Homo sapiens: one gene and its partners. The protein of the gene in region 1 interacts with the protein of each later gene in a biochemical or structural test. Each region holds a gene or a part of one and is shown in the gene's direction. Other genes may lie near its edges.

Region 1 (7,000 bases):
AGCGTAAAAAGGATGAGAATCTGACCCTTTCACTGTTACCAATTATTTTAGAGATCAGGTGATACTGCTCTTATCCAGATTCGAATGAGCATTTATTGAGCTCTGTTGTGTACAAGTGACCTTTGTGCTTAGAGAGAGAGGAGGGGTCTAAATGGACGAGTGGGCTGGGTATGGTGGCTCACACCTGTAATCCCAGCACTTTGGGAGGCCGAGGTGGGCAGATCACCTGAGGTCAGGAGTTTGAGACCAACCTGGCCAACATGGCAAAAAATACAAAAATTTAGCTGGGCATGGTGGTGGGTGTCTGTAATCCCAGCTACTTGGGAGGCTGAGACACGAGAATCACTTGAACCTGGGAGGCAGAAGTTGCAGTGAGCTGAGATCGCACCACTGCACTCCAGCCTGTGCAAAAGGGCCAGACATCATCTCAGAATAGGTGAATGAATGAATGAGTAATCACATGCGCTGCCTTTCCCTGTTTCTCAAGTCTGGCATCACTTTAGAATCTCTTGTTAGGATTTATGACACCCAGGCTTTACCTCAGAAGCTGAGAGTGGCACTCAGGTATAAGCATGTGTTTCCAAGCTCCCCAGGTATTCCATAGCGCAGCCAAGTTTGAGACACTGGGGTCTAAGAACCATGTAGAACTAATTAGAATCCTGAAGTGTCTGTGATAAAGATAATAAGCTTTTTGTAAGATTACAGAGGACATAGGTTAAGTTGGAAAGCCTGAGTGTTGAGATTCCTAGGCTCAGGAATTTTAATTTAAGCAAAATTAAATGTCCTAACTTGCAAAGACATGAATCTGTAAATTCCAGATTAATGGCAGGTGTGAATTGTACAATAGAAACTGATCTAGCCTACGTGTCTTCTTGGACTGGCAGACTATGTTAATCTTTTTATTTTATGGCAAGTTCAACATTATTCCCTTTTGTACTGAATTTTAGATTACTGATTTTGGGCACTCCAAGATTTTGGGAGAGACCTCTCTCATGAGAACCTTATGTGGAACCCCCACCTACTTGGCGCCTGAAGTTCTTGTTTCTGTTGGGACTGCTGGGTATAACCGTGCTGTGGACTGCTGGAGTTTAGGAGTTATTCTTTTTATCTGGTAAGAAATATTTTCATTGCTGCACAGACTGGTAGGAGGTGATTAGATGAAGTCACAAATGTGTCTTGCTCTGTTGTCCAGGCTGGCATGCAGTGGCTTGATCTTGGCTAACTGTAGCCTCTGCCTCCTGGGTCAAGTGATCCTCCCACCTCAGCCTCCCGAGTAGCTGGGACTACAGATGCACACCACCATGCCCAGCTAATTTTTCTATTTTTTGTAGTGATGGGGTTTTGCCATGTTGCCCAGGCTGGTCTCGAACTCCTGGGCTCAAGTGATCCTCCTGCCTCGGCCTCCCAAAGTGCTGGGATTACAAGCCTAAGGCATTGTGCCCAGCCTAGCTCACTTTTTGACCATTGATTTAAAGAAAAATCTGACTTTTCATTATGCTGAAAAAGAAATCTTTATATCTGAATGCCACTGAGAATGCCACTTGATTTCTTTTCCTTTCTCTCTCTACCAATATTAAGCCTTAGTGGGTATCCACCTTTCTCTGAGCATAGGACTCAAGTGTCACTGAAGGATCAGATCACCAGTGGAAAATACAACTTCATTCCTGAAGTCTGGGCAGAAGTCTCAGAGAAAGGTATGAATATGAAAGGGTTAAGAATTTGTGGTATGCTAAAATGTGTATGTGCTGTGGTGGGAGTTTCTTCCCAAATTCCATGGTGTTTTCTCCTGTCAATTCTGTTCTTATTTTCTATTGTTAGTTTCACACCATTTGAGAGGCACTGGAAATTATTAAGAGCATGCACTCAGGTCCTGGGTCTGCTACTACTTAGCTGTGTGGCCTTAGGCAAGTTATTTAACCTCCATCTCCAATTTCTTTCTGTGTAAAGGGACCCTCAATAAACCCTACCTTAAAAGGTTTTTGTGAGGGTTAAGTATCATGTACACAAGTGCCTGGTACCTATTTTAGTGAGCAAAATAAATGCACTTGTAACTTTTTAGTTACAAGGTTTCCTTTGAGTAAGCAAGCATGTAAAAACTAGATGTCATTAGTTACCTTGTATTTTATAATTTATCCTGGCAACTTTAGTTCCCTGAAGAGAAAGTAGAAAATTAAATGTCAAATAACATAACATAGGTGATTGTGTTAAATGTCAGAATATTTAAGGAATAATAATGTTGTAATATACAGGCCAGCGTGCATTTGTTGCTTGCTGGAGTAGCCAAGTTTTATTTCTGACAAGTCTGCAGTTCCAGGGAGCCTCTCCCTCGCTGAGTAACTGTCACCTATCCATCTGTAGATGTCAGAGAGAGTTTGCTGTGCATCCCAAGTATCTTAGAATTGGGTAGAAGTTTAGCTTTAATTAGTCCGACCTTGAGTCTAGCAACAAGAGAGGGAACAGGCAGTGAAGAGGTCGTGACTGACGTCCCAGCAGCAGGAGACAGGGAGTGTCATTATCATTCCTGGTCTTCTCACAGTACTCTGAATACAGAGAGTGAGGAAGATTAGGGGGCCCTGTCTGCTGACTCCGTGATGATCTCAGACCCTCTCTGCTCTTTCTGAATGGTGGCCTGTTAATTCTGGCATACTCTTACTGATAATATATTTATCCTTTTCACTGTGATTTGCCCAATTGTTGCTTTAGCTCTGGACCTTGTCAAGAAGTTGTTGGTAGTGGATCCAAAGGCACGTTTTACGACAGAAGAAGCCTTAAGACACCCGTGGCTTCAGGTGGGTGTGGGACAGTGCCTGCTAGCATAAAATACATGGGAAGCCCTGCTGCCTGAGAGACATGAGACAGAGGACAGAAACATGTTTACTTTGTTGAGTGTTTAATCTAATTGTTTTAGATGTATGGGGGGTATCTTGGAGGATGGGTTACAACCTGTTTTATTTTTTTTTTTGAGACAGGTTCTTGTTCTGTCACCCTGGCTGGAGTGCAGTGGCACGATCTCAGCTCACTGCAACCTCTGGCCCCCGGGTTCAAGTGATTCTCCTGCCTCAGCCTCCCAAGTAGCTGGGATTACAGGTGCATGCTGCCATGCCCAGCTACTTTTTGTATTTTTTGTAGAGATGGGGTTTCGCCGTGCTGGCCAGGCTACAACCTTTTTGATATTACTCATGGCTGTTGGATGTACACGCTCACTTTATGTCCTGTTCTGGTTCCACTTGGCTGCCCCGAGTCTCCTGTTTGGCCTGTGTTCTTTTGAGTGCTTGTTCTGGCTCTACCCCCAGCCATGTCCACTGCTCTTCATAGGTGGGGTGCATTCCAGCCATCTTCAACCTTAAATCAGGGAAGTGGGGGAGGGGGAGGAGGACAGCCTCCCTGGGGAGAATCCAGCTATTTCTCAAGCCCAAGTGACTGGGTATAAAGGGTCCCACTGCTTGTTCATTCAGGTGAGTAAATGTGTCCTTAATGAAGGCTGTCACCTGCACTTTTCATCTGTATTACCGCTGTGCTCCTGCTAGGGGTTGGGGCTGCCATTTTTAAATGCTGACCTCATCTGGAACTGCCAAGAGTTGGAAGTATGTTGTGGCTTTGCTGGGTTAATCTTTAGTTTTAGAATTAGCCACGGCATTGGGCAGGTTTTTCTGATAGATGTCTGGTCTTCTGTAATGAGCAGTTCCATTCAGCACAGACATGCCCCTTTCTATGAATTTTTTTTTGGTTTGTGTATTAGTCTGTTCTCACACTGCTATAAAGAACTGCCCAAGACTGGGTAATTTACAAAGAAAAGAGGTTTAACTGACTCACAGCTGCACATGGCTGGGGAGGCCTCAGGAAACTTATAATCATGGTGGAAGGGGAAGAAGGCATGTCTTAATGGCAGCAGGTGAGAGAGCTTGTGAAGGAAGTGAAGGGCGAAGATCCTCTTATGAAACTGTCAGATCTGGTGAGAACTCACTCACTATCACGAGAATAGCCTGGGGGAAACTGCCCCCATGAGCCAATCACCTCTCAACAGGTCCCTTTCTCAACACCTGGGGATTACAATTTGAGATGAGATTTGGGTAGGGACACAAAGCCAAACTGTATCAATCCGTTTTCTGTGGAGATGGGGGACAGAACTGGTAGCTTGAGCTAGAGGCTGTTACTTGAGCTAAATGCTGTTTCTCTGGGGATTACTGGTCCAGGAACTCCTTGGGCAGTCCAGCCTCCGACCCGTACTTCTGGGACTCTGGGAAGACTGTCCCTGTTCTCTGTTCCAATCCTCTACACCTAACAGTTTTGCTCAGGCCAGCTCAGGTTGAGAACAACAAAAACTTAAAACAAACAAACAAACAAACAAAAAAAGACATATATGTGTTTGGATGTTGCCCTGGAAACTACAGTCTCCCCAGAAGAAATCTGTCAGATGATTTAGCATTTAATAGACCACACAGATTTGAAACAGTGGGACCCTGGAGGAAAGGGGTTTGGAAACAAAGGGTGCCTTTGCATGTGGGGATTTTAATTTTGATGAAAAAGAGAAACATGTCTTTTGGCTCTTTTCATGTGTCCTAATAGGGAAACTCTTGGGTCTAAATGTAGAGGTACAGGAGCTGTGTTCATCTCTAACAAAAAATAGAGCTGGCCAGTTGAGCCTGGGAACAGGGTTTGCATCTGCCTGAAATTTATGAGCAAGCATAGCCTATCTTTCTTGTACTTTTTTGTGTCAAAGAAAACTTATTAACAACCAAGGAGAAGGTGAAGTTCAACTCTGTTGCAGGATCTCCCTGGAATACTCTTTTAGCCACCTTTTGTTTTTGCAGTGAAAGGAGGAATGAGCATTGAATGAAGACAAGGATGAAGACTGACCATCTAAAACATCTGTTAGTGATAGTTTGGGTTTTATTTTGGGAAAATTCAGTGTTTTTGAAAAAACCAAATGGTTTTGTGGGTCTGTCGCTGAACTGAGTGTTGGGAATGTGGATTCTGGTCTCTGTTTTGTCATTAACAGAGTGCCCAGTTTTGGGAGCATCCCTTACATCTACTCTCTGCCTCATATTTACTGCCTGAAATAGAGGATTTCTTCTGTTTACTTTCAAGGGATATTACAATTTAATTTTTATTTTATTTACTGTTGGAGACAAGGTCTTCTTCTGTTGCCTAAACTGGAGTGCACTGGTGCAATTATAGCTCACTGCAGCCTTGATCTCCTGGCCTTAAGGGATCCTCCCGCCTCAGCCTCACAAAGTGCTTGGATAATAGGCACGAGCCACTGTTCCTGGCTAATTTAATATTTTGGAATAATTGTAGACATCATGAAGAAAATCAATGTTTATTTATTTATTTCCTTTTTTGAGATGGAGTCTTGCTTTTGTCTACCAGGCTGGAGTGCAATGGTGTGATCTCAGCTCACTGCAACCTCTACCTCTGGGTTCAAGTGATTCTCCTGCATCAGCCTCCCAAGTGGCTGGGATTACAGGTGCCTGCCACCATCCCAGCTCATTTTTGTATTTTTAGTAGAGATGGGGTTTCACCATGTTGGTCAGACTGGTCTCGAACTCCTGACCTCAGGTTATCTACCCACCTTGGCCTCCCAAAGTGCTGGGATTCCAGGCATGAGCCACTGTGCCTGACCTGATTACTTGTTTTAAATACAGGCCTGATTAGGCTTGTGACCACTCTGTTTGGCTTCACTGAAGGGCTGCCAAGAGATGGACTTTTGAGAGTGACACTGCAAGATAATTGAGATCCTAAGTAAGGCCGTGAGAGGGTGCGGAGTAGAATCCAGATGAGCTTGCTGCTGTCAAATGGCAATGGGGAGCTACACTGAGAAACTCAAAACAGAGTGACCTCAAGTGATCTGCCCTGCCTTGGCCTCCCAAAGTGCTGGGATTACAGGCGTGAGCCACTGTGCCTGGTCCTTCTTTCCTTCTTTCTTTCTTCCTCCTTCCTTCCCCCTCCCCTCTCCTCCATTCCTTTCCCCTCCCTTCTTTCGTCCCCCCTCCCCTTTTTCCTTCCTTGCTTCTTTCCTTTCTTCCTTCCTCAGGGTCTTGCTCTCTCACCTAGGCTGGAGTGCAGTGGCATGATCACTGCACCATGACTTTCAGGCTCAAGTGATCCTCCTGCCCCAGCCTCCCAAGTAGCTGAGACTACAGGTGCATGCCACCATGTCTGGCTAATTTAAATTTTTTTTTTTTTTTTTTTGGAGACAGTGTTGTACTCTTTTGCCCAGGCTGGAGTGCAGTGGTGTGATCCTGGCTTACTGCAACCTCCGCCTCTTGAGTTCAAGCGATTCTCCTGCCTCAGCCTCCTGAGTAGCTGGGATTACAGGCGTGCACTACCATGCCCTGCTTATTTTGTATTTTTAGTAGAGAAGGGGTTTCACCATGTTAGCCAGGCTGATCTCAAACTTCCGACCTCAGGCGATTCGCCTGCCTTGGCCTCCCAAAGTGCTGGGATTACAGGCGTGAGCCTCCGTGCCTGGCCTAATTTTTAATTTTTTTTGTAGTGACGAAGTCCCACTATGTTGCCCAGGCTGGTCTCAAATTCCTGGCCTCAAGCAATTCTCCCACCTTGGCCTCCCAAAGTGCTGGGATTATAGGCATGAGCCACCATGCCCAACCTAGTGTTGTAAAATTTCCATATCCATCAAATTGCCAAATGGTGGAGGACTTTACTGTATCCTCTCCCTTTCCCCACTGTGGTATGCTTGGCTCAGTGGGAGGAGGGGCTGGAGTTGGGTGGGAAAGTACATGAGGCACTGGAATCAGATAACTCTGGGTCTGTATTCTGCACATGCCACCTGTGAGTGGCTGAGCTGGGCTTCTGGCCAGCACTCAAAGGCCACATTCCTAGTTATGGATGTTCCTTTCACCTTGCTGAAGATGGGGAGAGCTGCACCAGACCACCTCTCAGGGTTTCCTAATGCAAATCCTCGAACCCTGCAGAAGTGAGCATCCAGAGAGGTGGGAGCTACTCGCATACACACTGTCTGTGCCCTCCTCATCTCCTG
Region 2 (7,252 bases), on another chromosome or scaffold:
TTTACATGCCTGGCTAATTTTTGTATTTATAATAGAGACCGAGTTTTGCCATGTTGGCTAGGCTGGTCTTGAACTCCTGACCTCAGGAGTTCAAGGCAAATGAGCACCAAATGCTAATTTAAGTGATCCACCCACCTTGGCCTCCCAAAATGTTGGGATTACAGGCATGAGCCACTGCACCTGACCTCAGTCTTTTAAACTGTGATAGATACAGATTGCTGACAGTTTTAGTCTTGAGATCTAGATTCAAGCCCCCAGCTCTTCCTCTTAATCGGTGACCTCAAGAAAATTGTTTCATTTCTCTAACCTGTTTTCTCATGTGTCCATTGGGAATAATGACATCCAAGCCCGGAGTTGTGAAAATTCGGTGACATAATGTCTGCACAAGTGCTCTGTCAACATGTAGGTGTTTGTGTAGAGGGAGGGATTTGTGTTTTTATTACTTAGTGGGTGATGATTCCACTGGGCTCTCTTATGATCAAGTGACTCCAGGGAAATCACATTTCATTCTGTTACCCCAGTTGCTGTGGAAACAGAGTGACTGGAGGCAGAAGAGACAGAACCTGTCTCTGGCCTGGGAGAGACTGAGGGAGTATTGCAGCGGTCACCAACATGGTAAACCCCAGAGGGAGCAGCTTGGGGAGGTGATGTGTTTCAGTTGGGATGTCCAGGTTTGATGTGACTTTGGGACATTCTAGGGGTGGCATCCAGGAGGCAGTTGGGGATCACATGTGGAGCTGAAGACAGAATGTGGGGAAGTTGTCAGTGCAGAGAAAGAACCTATAGACTCGGGAGTAGATGATGGATTTATTTGTTCATTCACTCATTTATTTAGTCAAGTATTTATTAAGTGCCTTCTGTAGGCCAAGCACTGTTTTAATACAGCAGTACACAGCAGAAGACAAAAAATATTCACTCTCAGTGGGGTGCAGTAAGCTCACGCCTATAATCCCAGCACTTTGGGAGGCCAAGGCCTGGCAGTTCGAGACCAGCTTGGGCAACACAGGGAAACTTCATCTCTACTAAAAATACAAAAATCTGCCAAGCGTGGTGGCCTATGCCTGTGGTCCCAGCTACTCCAGAGGCTGAGGCGGGAGGATCACTTGAGCCTGGAAGATCAAGGCTGTAGTGAGCTATGATCGCACCATTGCGCTCCAGCCTGGGCAACAGAATGAGATGCTGTCTCTTAAAAACAAAAGAAATTCAGTCTTGTGGAGCTTTCACGTTAGTAGGGAAAGACTGACAAATGAGTCAGTGAAACATATGTTGGATGATGAGTGCTATGGAGGAACTTAATGAAGGGGAATGAGAGTGCCCCAGCTGGAGCTGGAGCAGTGGCAAGGATTTTTATTTAAATAGTAGGGTCCGGGAAGGCCTCCCTGAAAAGGGGACATTTGAGCAACATGAGCTATGTATGTATCTAGGGAAAAGACTCTGAAGCTGGCTTGTGACAGCAAGGAGGCCAGTATGGCTGGGGTGGAGTCAGCCAGGGGGAGAGAGGTAGGAGATGAGGTAACAGGGTGGGACTGGGAACCCCTAAAAAACCACTTAAGGCCTGGAAAGCCATTGAAAGGACTTGAGCTTTTACTCCAGGTGTGAGATAGGAGCCACCGGAGGGCTCCGAGCAGAGGAGGGACAGGATCTGCCTTAGGCCTTCACAGGATCCTGCTGGCTCCATGTTGACAATCAACTGCAGGGGCCACACACAGGAGTGGGAGATCAGCATTGCAGCAGTTGTTTTGTTAACTTACTCCACGTCAGAGACCCTTTGGAATGACTGATTGCATCTGGCAATGACTAATTTGTGGGGTTACTCTGGATTCATCAAATGCTAATTTTGATTCTTTTGACGTAACTGATAAAGGCAGACATTTCTGGCCACCAAGGCAGTAGGCTTATCTCTGGGTTGTTATGTTATGTTTTGAGACAGGGTCTCACTCTCTTGCCCAGGTTGGAGTGCAGTTGCAAAGTCATGGCTCACTGTAGCCTCAACCTCCTGGGCTCAGGCAATCCTCCCACCTCAGCCTCCCAGATAGCTGGGACTACAGGCGTGTGCCGCCAGGCCCAGCTAATTTTAAAAATTTTTCGTAGAGATGGGGTCTCACTATGTTGCCCAGCCTGGTCTCGGACTCCTGAGCTCAAGCAGTCCTCCTGTCTTGGCCTCCCAAAGTGCTGGCATTACAGGCATGAGCCACTGCACCTGGCCACATCTGTGGGTTCTTCTACTACCCTGCATTTTCTCCTCTAATTATTGTTATGCAAAATCTCGATCTTACCACATGGGGCTTAGCCATCTGCTTATGACAGCCCCACACACCTGGTTGTTTGCAGTAGCCACAGCAGGCTCTGTTGTCTGTTCATCACCTGCTCCCAGAGGGAAATGCCAACCTCTTTGCTAACTACTCCTGGGCTGGAGGGGTGGCTTGGACAAGACCCAGATATAACTCTGGTGTGTCACTGGAGGTGTGTCATTTTTAGAAGAAATGTTCATCAGCAATAGGGCCTATGGTCATTTTTGATTGTTATTGGTTTTCTAATCACTCAGTTCGCCACTGTGGTGTCTTAAATTTGTTTTTACTGTTTTTTGATGTGTAACATACATAGAGTGAAGTGAAGGTGTAAGTAAGAGTACAGCTCAGTGACTCTTTGCAAACTGCAGCCCTGTGTACTCCACACCCAGATGCAGCACAGAACATGCCTAGCCCCCAGCAGTTCCCTCAGGTTCTTTCTGTCAGTACCCCTGCAAGGGTAACCACTGTCCTGATTGTTAACAGCATAGATTCATTTTGCCTGATTTTGAATTGCATATAAAATGGAATCGTGTGGTATAAACTTTTCTTATCTGGCTTCCCTTGTTATGTTTGTTCATTTCATCTATGTCGTTCAGTGTAGCTGTAGATGATTTATTGTGATTTTTTTTTTTTCTGAGACGGAGTTTCGTCTTGTTGTTCTGGCTGGAGTGCAATGGCACAATCTCAGCTCACTGCAACCTCCGCCTCCCAGGTTCAAGTGGTTCTCTTGCCTCAGCCTCCCAAGTAGCTGGGATTACAGGCATGCACCACCACGCCTGGCTAATTTTTTGTATTTAGTAGAGACAGGTTTTCACCATGTTGGTCAGGCTGGTCTCGAACTCCTGACCTCTAGTGATCCACCTGCCTTGGCCTCCCAAAGTGCTGGGATTACAGGCATGAGCCACTGTGCTCGACTCCTATTGTCTTTTTTTTTTTTTTTTGAGACAGGGTCTCACTATGTTGCCCAGGCTGGAGTGCAGTGGCACCATCTCAGCTCACTACAGGCTCGACCTCCCGGGCTCAAGCGATCCTCCCACCTCAGCCTCCTCAGTAGTTGGGACTACAGGCATGTGCCAGTTCACCAGTCTAATTTTTGTATTTTTTTTGCAGAGATGGGGGTCTCACTGTGTTGTCTAGGCTGGTCTTGAACTCCTGGACTCAAGCATTCCTCCTGCCTCAGCTTCTTAAATCCTTGGGATTACAGACATGAGCCACTGCACCTGGCCTATTGTCATTTCTGTATAGTATTCTGTTGTATTGAGATAACTATTATGGTTTTATTTATTTATATTTGATTTTCTTTTTTAAACGGAGTCTCACTATGTTGCCAAGGCTGGTCTTGAACTGTTGATCTCAGGTGATCCCCCAACTTGGCCTCCTGAGTAGCTAGGACTATAGGTGCACACCACCACACCCAACTAATTTTTTTTTTTTTTTTTAAGCTTTTTGGAGGCAGCTTCCTGAGTAGCTGGGATTACAGGGATTACAGACAGAGCCACAAAGACCTGGCCATTGGGGTTTTATTATATTTGCTTTCTGAATGGGTATTATATGCATATAGTGCAAAATTCAAAAGGTGCAAAAGGGTATACACTAAAAAGAAAATCTCCCCTCACCCTTTCCATCCCTCCCTGCTCCCTCCCCAACTCCTGCTCCCTCCCCAACTCCTGCTCCCTCATTCTTCTCTCCTGATGCAACCACCATTAGCAGTTTTTTTGGGTGGTCTTCCTGGGTCATTCTGTACACATACAAGCATATATACCTACCGCCTCCATCCCTTTTTAAAAAATTCATAGTATATACACTGTTCCCTTGTGTGTTTTTTTTCAAGTAACAGTGTATTTTGGAGATGCACACTGCATGAAGTTCTACCTTATTTATTTATTTATTTATTTACTTACTTACTTACTTACTTACTTTGAGACAGAATCTCGCTCTGTCACTCAGGCTGGAGTGTAGTAGTGCGATCGTGGCTCACTGCAACCTCCCCCTCCCAGCTTCAAGTGATTCTCCTGCCTCAATCTCCCTAGTAGCTGGGATTACGGGCACATGCCACCAGGCTTGGCTAATTTTTGTATTTTTGGTAGAGATGGGGTTTCCCCATGTTAGCCAGGCTGGTCTTGAATTCCTGACCTCAAGTGATCCTCCTGCCTTGGCCTCCCAAAGTGTTGGGATTACAGGCGTCAGCCACGCCGTGCGCAGCCTACCTTATTCTTTTAAATGATGCATACAATTGCATTTCATGGCCGGGCGCGGTGGCTCACGCCTGTAATCCCAGCACTTTGGGAGGCTGAGGCAGGTGGATCACGAGGTCAGGTGTTCAAGACCAGCCTGGCCAAGATGGTGGAACCCTGTCTCTACTAAAAATATAAAAATTAGCCAGGTGCAGTGGTGGGCACCTGTAATCCCAGCTACCTGGGAGGCTGAGGCAGGAGAATTGTTTGAACCCGGGAGGCGGAGGTTGCAGAGAGCCGAGATCGTGCCACTGTACTCTAGCCTGGGTGACAGAGCAAGACTCTGTCTCAAAAAAAAAAAAAAAAGAAAAGATTGCATTTCATGGATGTGAAACAGTTTTTTAGCAATATATCTCAGGAACTTTGCCTTCCTGTGCCATGTTTGTTTCAGGAACAGTTCATATCAGAACTGTGTCTCCCTGAGAAAGCTGCATGCACACGAACCCAGGCCATCGGTGATAGTCATCTTGTGCTCTTATCCTCACAGCTGATACATACTGAGCACTCATCTCTTATTTTGAGAAAAATTCACATAAAATTTACTGTTTTAACCATTTAAAGTGCACATTTCAGCCAGATGCGGTAGCTCACACCTGTAATCCCAGCACTTTGGGAGGCCAAGGCGGGTGGATTGCTTGAGGTCAGGGATTCGAGACTAGGCTGGCCAACATGGTGAAACCCCATCTCTACTGAAAATACAAAAATTAGCCGGGGGTGGTGGTGCGTGCCTGTAGTCCCAGCTATTCGGGAGGCTGAGGCAAGAGAATCACTTGAACTGGAAGGCAGAGTTTGCAGTGAGCTGAGATTGCACCACTGCACTCCAGCCTGGGCAACAGAGTGAGACTCCGTCTCAACAAAAAACATAAATAAATAAATAAATAAAGTGCACATTTCAGGGTTTTTTTTTTTTTTTTAGCATATTGACAATGTTCTTCAACCATCTCCATTCTCTAATTCAGAATATTTTCATCACTCCAAAAAGAAACCACATAACCATTAAACAGTCACTTCTTATTCTCTCCCCAATGTTGCCCTTGGCAACCACTGATCTACTTTCTGCTTCTCTGGATTTGCGTATTCTGGACTTATAAATGTATACGTGGTCTTTTACACTTAACCTTGTTACACTTTGCATAATGTTTCTGAGGTTCATCCATGTTGTAGCATATATCACAACTTCAGTTTTTTAAATAACTGGATGATATTCCATAAATATACTGTACAATGTTTATCTATTCATCAACTGATGGACATTTATTGGGTTGTTACCATGTATATATAAACCTTTTTTTTTTTTTTTTTTTGAGATTGAGTCTTGCTCTGTTGCCCAGGCTGGAATGCAGTGGTGCAATCTCGGCTCACTGCAACCTCTGCTTCCCAGGTTCAAGTGATTCTCGTGCCTCAGTCTCCTGAGTAGCTGGGACTACAGGCGCATGCCACCATGCCCAACTAATTTTTCTGTTTTTAGTAGAGACGGGGTTTCGCCGTGTTGCCCAGGTTGGTCTTGAACTCCTGGGCTCAAGAAATCCACCTGCCTTGGCCTCCCAAAGTGTTGGGATTACAGGCGTGAGCCACCACCCCAGCCTCCATGTATAAACATTTTTATCAGATTCTTAAAAAGTATTTATTTACTTTTTTTTTTTTTTTTTTTGAGACAGAGTCTTGCTCTGCCACCCAGGCTGGAATGCAGTGGCATGATCTTGGCTCACTGCAACCTCCGCCTCCTGGGTTCAAGCAATTCTCTGCCTCAGCCTCCCGAGTAGCTGGGATTACAGGCGCCTGCCACCATGCCTGGTTAATTTTTGTATTTTTACTAGAGACGGGGTTTCACCCTCTTGGCCAGCCTGGTCTTGAACTCTCCTGACCTTGTGATCTGCCAACCTCTGCCTCCCGAAGTGCTAGGATTACAGGCCTGAGCCACCGTGCCTGGCCACTTTTTTTTTTTTTTAGATGGAGTCTCACTCTGTCACCCAGGCTGGAGTGCAGTGGCATGATTTCGGTTCGCTGCAACTTCTGCCTCCCAGGTTCAAGTGATTCTCTGGCCTCAGCCTCCTGTGTAGCTGGGATTACAGGTGCACGCCACCAAGTCTGGCTAATTTTTATATTTTTAGTAGAGACAGGGTTTCACCATATTGGTCATGCTGGTCTTGAACTCCTGGCCTCAAGTGATCTGCCTGCCTTGGCCTCCCAAAGTGCTGAGATTACAGGTGTGAGCCACTGTGCCCAGCCTGTTGTTTTCTCTCTTGAGACAGAGTCTCACTTTATCACCCAGGCTGGGGTGTAGTGGCTCGTCTCAACTCACTGCAACCTCCACCTCCCAGGTTCAAGTAATTCTTGTGCCTTAGCCTCCTGAGTAGCTGGGATTATTGAGGTGCGTGTCACCACACCCAGCTAACTTTTTTTATTTTTGGTAGAGACAGGGTTTTGCTATGTTGGCCAGGCTGGTCTCGAACTCCTGGCCTCAAGTGATTCTCCCGCCTCCACCTCCCACGGTGCTGGGATTACAGGCGTGAGCCAGTGCTCCTAGCCAGGACTTTTTTTATATACAAAGAAGAAATGTCAGGGAGTGCCTGTTTAAAGTAGAAATAGTTATATATGCAGTAGGAATTGTTCATTTAAAATACAAGCATCTCCATCCTACCACATTTAGGAGCTATGCTGAATATTGTGGGAGAGGTAAAGATGTTGAGTTTGACTCAGGGATGGAAAGAAAGGAGTTGAGAACAG
Region 3 (3,021 bases), on another chromosome or scaffold:
GAAAGCACCCTGCCCTTCATCTTCATGTTCTCCCAAATGGAACTTAGGATCTTTTAACATAGGTGGTTCTGTGATAACATCAGTGTTTTCCAAATCAAAGGAACGCTTTAAAAAATAGGACCTATTTTTTAAGACTTTACAGCCTTTGAAATGGTTTCCACGTGATTGTTACGCCAGCAGTTCTCGTTTTGTTTGTTTTTCAATCTCAGTGAAATGGCTCTTTGCTTTCGAGTTCTCACGCAACGTACTGGGCAAATGACAATCCTCAGCCGCTGGTATTTTCTAAGGGGTCTCTTCACTTTGATGAGTGACATGAACACCGTGTCTCCTTCTCTTGTGTGTACCTAAAGCCATATTTCCAAGTCTGTGGTACTCCAGGATTCCAGGAGTAAGCCTGTAGAAGAGATTTATTTTAAAAGAGATTGCTCTGAAATTTATCTTAAAAGAGCTTGCTCTGTCTACCTTGACAGAAATTGGAGTTTTAAAATTATGTGTTAATATTTTTATTTGCAGATTTCGTTTCCGTCAACTTAAACATTGTTGCCCTTCAACAAGGCTCTTGAATTAATAAAATTATAGTCTCTAAGAATTCCACATTTTATGGAAAGTTAGAGCAAAATCATTTTGAGTTAAGCCAGTTCTTAGCCTAATGCAAACTGCAGCGCCTTTAAGCATAAAGTAACACAACAGCATTGCACGGGGCCGGCACTGCCGCTGCCTTCACTGAAGGCTGCAGTGCTGTTCTGAGAGCTTGGAGGAGGCACCAGCGAGGATGACGTTTAGTGGAGCTCTTTCTGTTGAAAAGAGCTCACGTTATCAACACCTTGTAAGGAAAATACAGTGTCTGAGTTTTCATCGGTCTTCACATGCTGCTATATATTCCACAGAGTTCCTTGCATGTACTGAGCTTTTGTTTTAGATGGAATAGCACAAGGAGAAAAATCTTTAAACTTAGTGCTTTGTCTATTCTTTATTTCTCTCAGGGTGGCCAGTATTTTGACTTATTTATCCTGCTTGAAAGCTACTTGAGATGTGTACTGCTATTCTAAACACGTGATCTAGTTTCTTTCATCTCTGGCATAAGATTATATAACTTAATGTTAAGTGTCTTGAGGCATAAAAGACAAAATGTGGCTTATTTTAGGATCTGTTTTTTCATCGAGGTCTCGGGTATCCTTTCAAAGATAGTGAGAAGCAGACACTGCTCCTTGTGCAGCTCTGGTACCTCCTGCCCACTGCTGTCACTTCAAGCCACTGGCAATGCTTCTGTCCTCGTGTCTTGGAGGAAAATCACCTGGGGGGAGGGGACTTCTTGTGGTAAGAGCAAGTGCAGGTATGAAATGCGAAGATTGCCCCAGCTAAAAGTGGACAAGTCCGCTTTGTGAGATGAATACTTCCTGAGAAACTTGACAAGTATCTCTCCATTTTACCATTATGAAAACTATCATTAAAAAAAACAGTTTAGATGCCTTCTCCTTTTGAGGGAAAAAGGGTGCTTTTTATTGTATAAAGCAGCGTCTTATGTATTTTGATATACCATTGTTTGAACTTCCGTCTTTAGCTGATAGATTCTCAAATATCCTTGATTTTGGATGTTCAGTATGTTTGTGAGAGAGGTTTCTGGGAAGACTCTCTTTTTGCCCTCGGGAAAAAGCAAAATATCAATGTTTGGGTGACTGTGTAAAGCTCAGTGTGTAAGAACATCTTTTTGTCTAGGTTTTCTTTCTGCTCTTTATTGAAGACAAACACTCACCAAAAAGAAAAATAAAAGTTTTCAGAGAAACTAATTTTCTTTGGCAAGAGTATTACTTAATATTTTGGCCTCCTAAAGTTTCCCTAGTTAGTACTCGGACTCCTGTGCTAATTGTCAGCTTACATATCATTGTATAGAGACTGTTTATTCTGTACCAAACTGATTTCAAAAGTACTACATTGAAAATAAACCGGTGACTGTTTTTCTTCATAAAGTTCTGCGTTTGGCATCTTCACTCTTTCCAAAATGTATCTGTACATCAGAAATGTCACTATTCCAAGTGTCTTTTTAGTGTGGCTTTAGTATGGCTTCCTTTTAATATTGTACATACATTGTATCTTTGTTTTATGGTAATAAGTAATAAAAATGTAGACTTCATATTTTGTACAAAATGTCCTATGTACAGAATAAAAAAGTTCATAGAAACAGCAAATATAGGTAAGTGGCACAATTATTTTTCTTTAGAAAATATCTGTAACTTTATGCATTAGTGAAATGTTAAGTACCGACATATTTTTTAACATTTTGTAATTCAAAACTTTTTGTTTTGACATTGTTTATGAAGAGAAACTTCATACACTTGCCATTTAATATGCTCTTTTATCTAATTTTCAAAAACTCTAAAAAACGGTGTATCATATGGACTAAATAAAGAACATGTGAATTTTATTGCTCATCATGAAACTAAATTTAGCCATGGTGTTGAGCAAGCTGGCTCTGACGTTATCGGGTTCCCGTTAGGTCAGGGCCGCCCACACACAGGGACGCTGACTGCAGAGGGGCTGGCCATCTCCATCCAGCCCGCCTGGAGCGCTGGCTGCGCCAGATGCTAGCCACAGCTGTTCAAAGCTAAGTCTATCCACTGATTTTTTTACTTACTTAGTGGAAAAGGCAGTGTGACTTTTTATAGACCGCCTCTTGGTTTGGTTTGGGTTTTGGGGCTTTTTTTGAGTAAGAAAAGGTGAATCAATACAATTTATAGAAATGAAAGTCTTGAAAATAGGGAATTGCTGAAAGTATGAATTTAGGATCCTAGTTCGCCCACCTCCTCCTCAGTGGAGAGATCATTATCCTCGCTGATGCTCTTGCGAGAAGCCCATGGAAACAGGACTAAAGTGTTATCTGCTCGTGTCGTGGTTATAACCTCACCTCTCCATAGCTGCGTGTGGTCAGCACGCCGGCTGGCGTGGGAGGGCAAGCTCTGTGCTTAGCTTCCTTCTCTACCCAGTGGCGTCTGTGCTCCCTTCGCACTGACAGAGGTGCAGACG
Region 4 (7,252 bases), on another chromosome or scaffold:
CTCAGGCATGAGGGAGAAGATGAACAATAGGAAGAAATACATGAGAAAATACATGTAAAAACACAAGCAAGATTTATTAAATACAAATCGACTGTAATGAGAGGTTTATAGTAAAAAAGAAAAAAGAAAAAAACAAATGTTGTAATGTTATATTACTTGTATGTGTACATGATTAAATTGAAAGCCAAAACTTTTAATTAAGATACTGAGGTTTATTTAGGCACCTCTCAGCATGTTGGATGTAGTTCAAGAATTTTCTGAAAAAGGAAGCTTGTTTATTAAGTGAAAATGATGTGTCTTTTGAAGCAGGCATAGAAAGTCAGGCTACCCTTTTGGAATAAATGTCTAAAATTTTATCACCCAGCCACATTTCTAACTGTATTCTAAGCTTGTAAAACTTTAATTTAGTTAATTTTTAATTAAATTATTTAATAATGATGCTTTCTGTCTTAGAAAATCAGGGGACATTTATGTGGACCTAAGGTGTAGGTTAGACTTCAGCACCTTACACGTCATATAAGATGATTTTTAAAATCAGGAAATAGTATGTCATATTGCATTAGGTTCATAAGTCCATGAAAGCAGAGGAGAATAGGCCCAAGAAAGAAGTCCTTACAGAAAGGAAATCAGTGTGGTCCTGAAATAGGGTTGGTATGGACAAAATAGAGGCTCAGATAATTGGATCAGAAGCCACTTTCAGTGACTATCCACATACCAAAGTTTTAGAAACTTAGTTGTGGTAACATATCTCCATCTGTCAATCAACAGGCATATACTGAGTGATTCCTGTATACAAAGCCCTGGATTAGGTACTGGGGCCCCCTAGTGTATGAGCAGAACTTTCTGTCATAGAGAAACCCCACTTGTTAGCACTAGGGAATGTATCCAAGTCACTCGGCACCAAAGTATGTTAGCAGCGGGGAATCTGTGGGTCTGTAGCAACCTCATTTCTTGCCTCCTCAAGGAAGAACAAGGCAGAGGGAGAAGCCAAGGCAACTTTTAGAGCAGGAGTGAAAGTTTATTAAAAACTTTTAGAGCAGGAGGCCGGGCACGGTGGCTCATGCCTGTAATGCCAGCACTTTGGGAGGCTGAGGCGGGTGGATTACTTGAGGTCAGGAGTTGGAGACCAGCCTGGTCAACATGCTGAAACTCTGTCTCTACTAAAAATACAAAAATTAGCCAGGCTTGGTGGTGCACGCATGTAATCCCAGCTACTTGGGAGGCTGAGGCAGGAGAATTGCTTGAACCTGGGAGGCGGAAGTTACAGTGAACAGAGATTGCACCATTGCACTGCAGCCTGGGTGACAAAGTGAGACTCCGTCTCAAAAAATAAAATAAAGTTTCAGAGCAGGAATGAAAGTAAAGTACATTTAGAAGATGACCAAGCAGGCTACTTGAGAGATTCAAAAAGTGCATGGTTTGACCTTTGACCTGGGCTTTTATATGTTGGCATGATTCGGGTGTTATATTACTTCTCTCCTGATTCTTCCCTTGGGGTGGGCTGTCCGCATGCCCAGTGGCCTGCCAGCACTTGGGAAGTGCCGCATGCGTGGTGTTTACTGAAGTTGTGTGCATGCTTACTTTAAGCGATTTTTCCCTTAGCAGTAGAGCATTCCCAGAGGTAGGTCTTATACCAGTTAAACACCGCAATTTTGCCTCTTAGTGCACATGCTTGAGCCCAATTACCCACCTCCTGAGATCTCATGGGGACGTGGCTGAGCATCAGTTTCAGGTGTTTCTGTCTATTAGGGACCGTGTTTCCTTGGTGCCAGCTGCAACCAATTATTATTTTAGCGAGAGATAGTTTAACAACCATCTGACCTTCACCTGATGGCCGCCTGACATTCCTGGTTGGGTGGGGGGCCCTCTCTTGCCCTGCTCATGTCTAATACCTACTCTGGCATCCCTACTATGTACAGATGAGGGCTACACCGAGACATTAAAATTAGTCAAAGAGCTGCCCGAGGGCAAACATGCCCTCCACAAAGACAAGTGGTAAGGGAAGAAGCATGGTGATGATGTGTAGCAATTGTTTCCTTCAATGATGGCTGACACTCCCATTCCCGGATAACAGCAATAGGTCAAGGCAGACATATCTAGAAGTTCTGGAAGATTAAAGGCCTTCACATTTCATGTACTTAGAAATAGCTAAGGGGATAAAAAATTATTCCCTAAGAAATAAATGCCTAAGTACATGTAATTCTGTAAGGTTGAAGAGAGCCCAAAAGAAGAGGTAAAATGCTGGCTGGGCATGGTGGCTCATGCCTGCAATCCCATCAAGTTGGGAGGCCGAGGTGGGCAGATCACTTGAGGTCAGGAGTTCAAGACCAGCCTGCCCGACATGGCGAAACCCCGTCTCTACTAAAAATACAAAAATTAGCCAGGCGTGGTGGCATTCACCTATAGTCCTAGCTACTCAGGAGGCTAAGGTAGGAGAATTGCTTGAACCCAGGAGGTGGAGGTTGCAGTGAGCCAGGATAGCACCACTGCACTTCAGCCTGGGTGACAGAGCGAGACCCTGTCTCAACAACAACAAAGAGGTAAAATGCTATCTTCATTTTTCCCTATTCTCTCATTTCAAACAAAAGAAAGTGCAAGCTGGGATGGACGCGGTGGCTCATGCCTGTAACCCCTGTAATCTCAGGTGCGGTGGCTCACGCCTGTAAAATGCACTTTGGGAGGCCAAGGCAGGTGGATCATGAGGTCAGGAGATCGAGACCATCCTGGCCAACATGGTGAAACCCTGTCTCTACTAAAAATACAAAAATTAGCTGGGTGTGGTGTCACATGCCTGTAGTTCCAGCTACTCGGGAGGCTGAGGCAGGAGAATCACTTGAACCCAGGAGGCAGAGGTTACAGTGATCCAAGATTGCGCCACTGCACTCCAGCCTGGTGACAGAGCGAGACTCCGTCTAAAATAAAAAAGAAAGAAAGAAAGAGCAAGCTTTTCTCTCCTCATGAAGTCAAAGCTTGATAGTAGCTCAGACTCAGGGAGCCCACACTCAGGATCTTTGCATGTGTGTCTCAGCATTGTCATTTATAAGCTGGCTTTTTAGAGTTGTTTTGGTCTTGTGCACATCAGCACATCATTCATATTTTATACAAAATTGTGACGTGATCAGTATCTCCTCCAACTTCATCCTGAGCACACTGCGTGCATGAGGGTTTGAAATTGTTTTGTAACAAATAATCATAAATTTAGAAGTACGTGACGTAAGCTAATTCAGGTTGCCCAGAGTTCCACTTAATTTGATTTATTGCAAAACAAATACGAAAGTTCATGAATTTGACATAGACATTGTTAACATACTTTAAGTATTTCTAGCCTGTTTACTTATTATGCAACAAATCCAACATTCCTAGAAGTGCCTATTTTATCTAGACTAATTGTTTCCACACACATTAAAAGGACTCAAGTGAATTGTAGAAATGTATTCTAAAAGAATATGCCCTTTGAAATGATTCTCCATCTGGATACAGACTGCAGGTTTAAGTATAGAGTGGTGGGGAATCTAAGGTGTAAGGTGACCCTAGAGTTTTCAAACTCAGAGTGAAAAAATCTTGCCTAAAGCTAGGATTCAAAAATACCAAGAGATGAAACTCTTCTTATGGGTACTATTAACTTGGGGTTGATTCATTTAATTTTCCTTTTGCTTGGTTTAAGACCATGTACTATAGGAATGATACAGTGGCCAGTGACTTCATTGTCTGACATTTTCAACACCCTTTGTTACTTCTATCTTCACTGGTGAGCTGTGGATTATTTTATCATCTGGATGCTTAGAACTCTGAGCAAGTCATGTTCTAGAACTATGAGACTAAACAATGAAGAACTTTGCACTGGTAATATCAAAGTACTGAAAGTGTGTGGTTTTAAAGTGTGAAAAACATGGCAGTTAAGATCTCTCAGGTACTTTGAACCATAATGCAGTTTTCCTTCTCTTCAAAACCTCTACTTCTAAATGGCATTCATTGTGTTTTCTAGTGTTTTTTCTTTGGTATGACACTAGTTAACCTGTATTTCTTACCATAAAGCTAGGACTCAAATACTAAGAGGTTTGACTCACCTTAGGTGGAACTTTATATAGTACTTTAACTTAGAAATATTTGGAATCAATTTCTGCTTATAAAGGTATCAAAAGCAAGTGATACTAAAACGAGTAGGTTCAAAGTTGTATACTAAATAGAGACCTTGGTAAGAGAGAATGAGGGATTTTCAAATATGGTCCAGAAGATAGTCTCTGAAAGGCTAAACCAGCAATGGTTACTAGCCATGCAGGAAGCCAGTGCTGTCTAATCTTACAAATTCTGTTTTCCTGCCAAATGGCATTTAGGAGCAACTGATAATTTATTTCTTGCCACTTGCCGTTACTGGAGATTTATTTGGTTTCTCAACTCAGCCCTTAACAAGAAAGCAAGTCTTTGTTGAGGGCACAATATTATCAGTATGGCAAAGCTAAGACGAGGCTTCTGTGTGACACTGGAAAGACCAACAAGAATGGATTAAAGAGAGTGATTTTCCATATGCTGTCACTGGGACAGGTACTTTTCTCTGTAGACACACAGGCTAAAAGCAGTTTAAAAGCTTCCTTACCTAAACAGTACATAGTTCAAGGAGATAGGCCCTGTGTCCATTGCGTCTCTAGTTTTTGTTTCTAACCCATTATATAAAGAAACATCCCAGTTTGCTTTTTAGAGAAAAGTTCAAGTTAGAACCATTCTCTGGTCTTGCTAAGTCTCTTAATTGTGACACAACTGTCCTAAGCAACTGTCCTTGCACAAGAATGTCACTCATCTGCTTCATCTGCCAGCTCCTTAGAGATGAGGGGGGTCTGTGTGTCAGCAGGAGGCAGAAGGCCCTGTGGCTCATCCAGTGGCCTGATTTCCTTTGTTTGGAGGCTTGGTTCTGAGTGAGAGTTCAACAGCCTTTGCCCAGGCGGCTTCTCAAACACAGGGTGTGGTTTCCTTAGCTCACTCTCTGCTGTTTGGTTGCTCATGGCAACAAGATCCAAATAACTTGGACATGTGTTTGTATAAAAAAAACCTGGGAATGGAACCCAAAGTGAGACTTTGGGGCTTTCAGTTAGTGGAAGAGCTGCGGTGAGTACCAGGCAACTGCTCATTTATTTTCTCTCATTCTTTCTCTCTAAATTACGCTGGAAGTTTGCTAGCACAATAACCATGTTTGTGGATAGTTTTAGAAAGTAGTCTCAATTCTTGTATTTCCTGCACAAATGAAATAATTGCTATCTATTTACCCGTGCAAATTTCTTTTTCGGGGGAGAGGAACAAATTAGCATATGTTTAAAGAAGTTGAAAGCTAATAGAAACTCATATTTGGTACCTTTTGGGTGGCAGGATTCTATAGGAAATGCCTTGGCAAAGGGAGCTGCAGAGTGCCTTAGTAATGCTTGGGATTGCAGGCGTGTTGTCTAGGGCCACAGCCGGGGAGGGGACCAGGGAGGGAAGAGGGGTTGTTCATACGGAGGGAGTGGAAGGGATTCTTGGAATAATTTTTTCCAGACTCTATTTTAAGATTATAATTTTTAAGACAGCAAATATCCCAAATGGTAATACTGGTTACACTTCTATGAGCATATTGATTCTCACTTGCTTGACTCAAGGGAGGGTTTGATTTTGGTCACAAAGCCACCCGTGACTATGACAGATAATTCAAGGTTGCCAAACTTGCCTGTGCCAATTGACAAAGCCATTTATATAAGTCCTCTCTTGCTATATTGCTCTGGCCTCAAAAGGCAGTAAACTCTCTTGGACAAAACTCTTTAGGATCTATTCAGGGATTTAACACTTTTCTGCTAAATTGCAAGTAAATTTAAACATTTTAAACAAATTAACAAGGATTGCTTAGGTACCTGGTGTGGTACAGAATGAGCTGTCAGTTTCTATTCTGATGAATAGAATTTTATAGATAGGAGGAACGGGAGGCCTCCAGAGGATACTACCCTCCCTAAAAAGAGACGGAGGAAGAGCTGAAAGCGGGCAGAGAGGCTTCTTGATGACAACGTGGTGGGCTTAGAGAAGCTGCTGCCTGCAGGCGGGGCCCCTGCTTTCCTGCACCCCTTTGAGCCTCTGCCCCACACTCTTCCTTTGTATAAAACAACTGCTTCTTGCCTGCCTGCCCCATCACACCCCTCCACTCCATCGGGTCACTGCTCAATGGCACAATAGCACTGCTCAGCCATACCTCCCAGCATCCTGTCCCCTATCTGGTGACTTGGCCAACACAGGCTCTGATCCACTTGCCCCGCTCCGCATCTTTTGTGAATCAGCACAGTTGATATATCTGAGCAGGGGCTTCTACCATCTCCCCAGGGAATCACTAGCCATCGGCCATCTGGCCCCGCGGGGTGCTTTTGTTCCTGGAATCATAGTGAAGTATCTGTTGTCTTGGTGCCTGGTAGTCAGCTCGGCTGAAGGGGAAGCTGGGTCTTGGTCCTCAGACCCCATGGACTCCAAGGCAGCATTGTGCAGGTGCCTCTGGGAGCCACTGCTCAGGGTGCTGGGGCATTTCCTGTGGTCATTTGTCCTGTCTGCTTGCCCCCGCAGGTCCCTCCAGCTACAAGGTGGGCACCATGGCGGAGAAGTTTGACTGCCACTACTGCAGGGATCCCTTGCAGGGGAAGAAGTATGTGCAAAAGGATGGCCACCACTGCTGCCTGAAATGCTTTGACAAGTTCTGTGCCAACACCTGTGTGGAATGCCGCAAGCCCATCGGTGCGGACTCCAAGGTAACGGGCATCCCCATGTGCCAATGGGAAGGGCTGGGTTTTGGAGTGTCCTTTGCCCACAACCATGGCAGCAGCAGCTGGCTGTTAGGATTTCCCAGCATCACTGCAGCCACCTTGAGGCCTCAAGGAAGCCTCCTCCACTCCCCAGGCCACAGTGGCCCGAGCTGTTTAATGTGGGGCTTGACTGGATGGGCGCCAGCGCCCTTGCCAGCTCTTTTGATTGCATTCTAAATATTTCAAGAATTGTGAGATTTTTATCCTCACCTCAGCGTCCCTCCTATAAGAATAGTCACTGTGGGGCAGTCCCAGGTGTAAGGGACTGTGTCATCTCAGTGGTCAGTCCCAGGGAAATCAGCCTTATGGGAGGGCTCCTGCCACCACCCCCAGCACCCCTCATGGTGGCCCACCCTGTCTGCTTGGTTTCCAGGAGGTGCACTATAAGAACCGCTTCTGGCATGACACCTGCTTCCGCTGTGCCAAGTGCCTTCACCCCTTGGCCAATG

The links.
Region 2: the proteins of CHEK2 (region 1) and XRCC1 form a complex in vitro, tested with the Homo sapiens proteins (one study listed by BioGRID and IntAct).
Region 3: the proteins of CHEK2 (region 1) and PPP2R5C form a complex in vitro, tested with the Homo sapiens proteins (one study listed by BioGRID and IntAct).
Region 4: the proteins of CHEK2 (region 1) and FHL1 form a complex in vitro, tested with the Homo sapiens proteins (one study listed by BioGRID).

The regions. Positions count from the first base shown.
Region 1 is NC_000022.11:28,689,821-28,696,820, reverse strand, and holds part of CHEK2 (serine/threonine-protein kinase Chk2), read left to right. Parts: intron 1-947; coding exon 948-1,111; intron 1,112-1,578; coding exon 1,579-1,694; intron 1,695-2,703; coding exon 2,704-2,789; intron 2,790-7,000. UniProt on the Homo sapiens protein: Serine/threonine-protein kinase which is required for checkpoint-mediated cell cycle arrest, activation of DNA repair and apoptosis in response to the presence of DNA double-strand breaks.
Region 2 is NC_000019.10:43,565,456-43,572,707, reverse strand, and holds part of XRCC1 (DNA repair protein XRCC1), read left to right. Parts: intron 1-7,252. UniProt on the Homo sapiens protein: Scaffold protein involved in DNA single-strand break repair by mediating the assembly of DNA break repair protein complexes. Negatively regulates ADP-ribosyltransferase activity of PARP1 during base-excision repair in order to prevent excessive PARP1 activity.
Region 3 is NC_000014.9:101,925,556-101,928,576, forward strand, and holds the end of PPP2R5C (serine/threonine-protein phosphatase 2A 56 kDa regulatory subunit gamma isoform), read left to right. Parts: 3' UTR 1-2,422; downstream 2,423-3,021.
Region 4 is NC_000023.11:136,199,840-136,207,091, forward strand, and holds part of FHL1 (four and a half LIM domains protein 1), read left to right. Parts: intron 1-5,062; exon of another isoform or gene 5,063-5,100; intron 5,101-6,567; coding exon 6,568-6,749; intron 6,750-7,176; coding exon 7,177-7,252.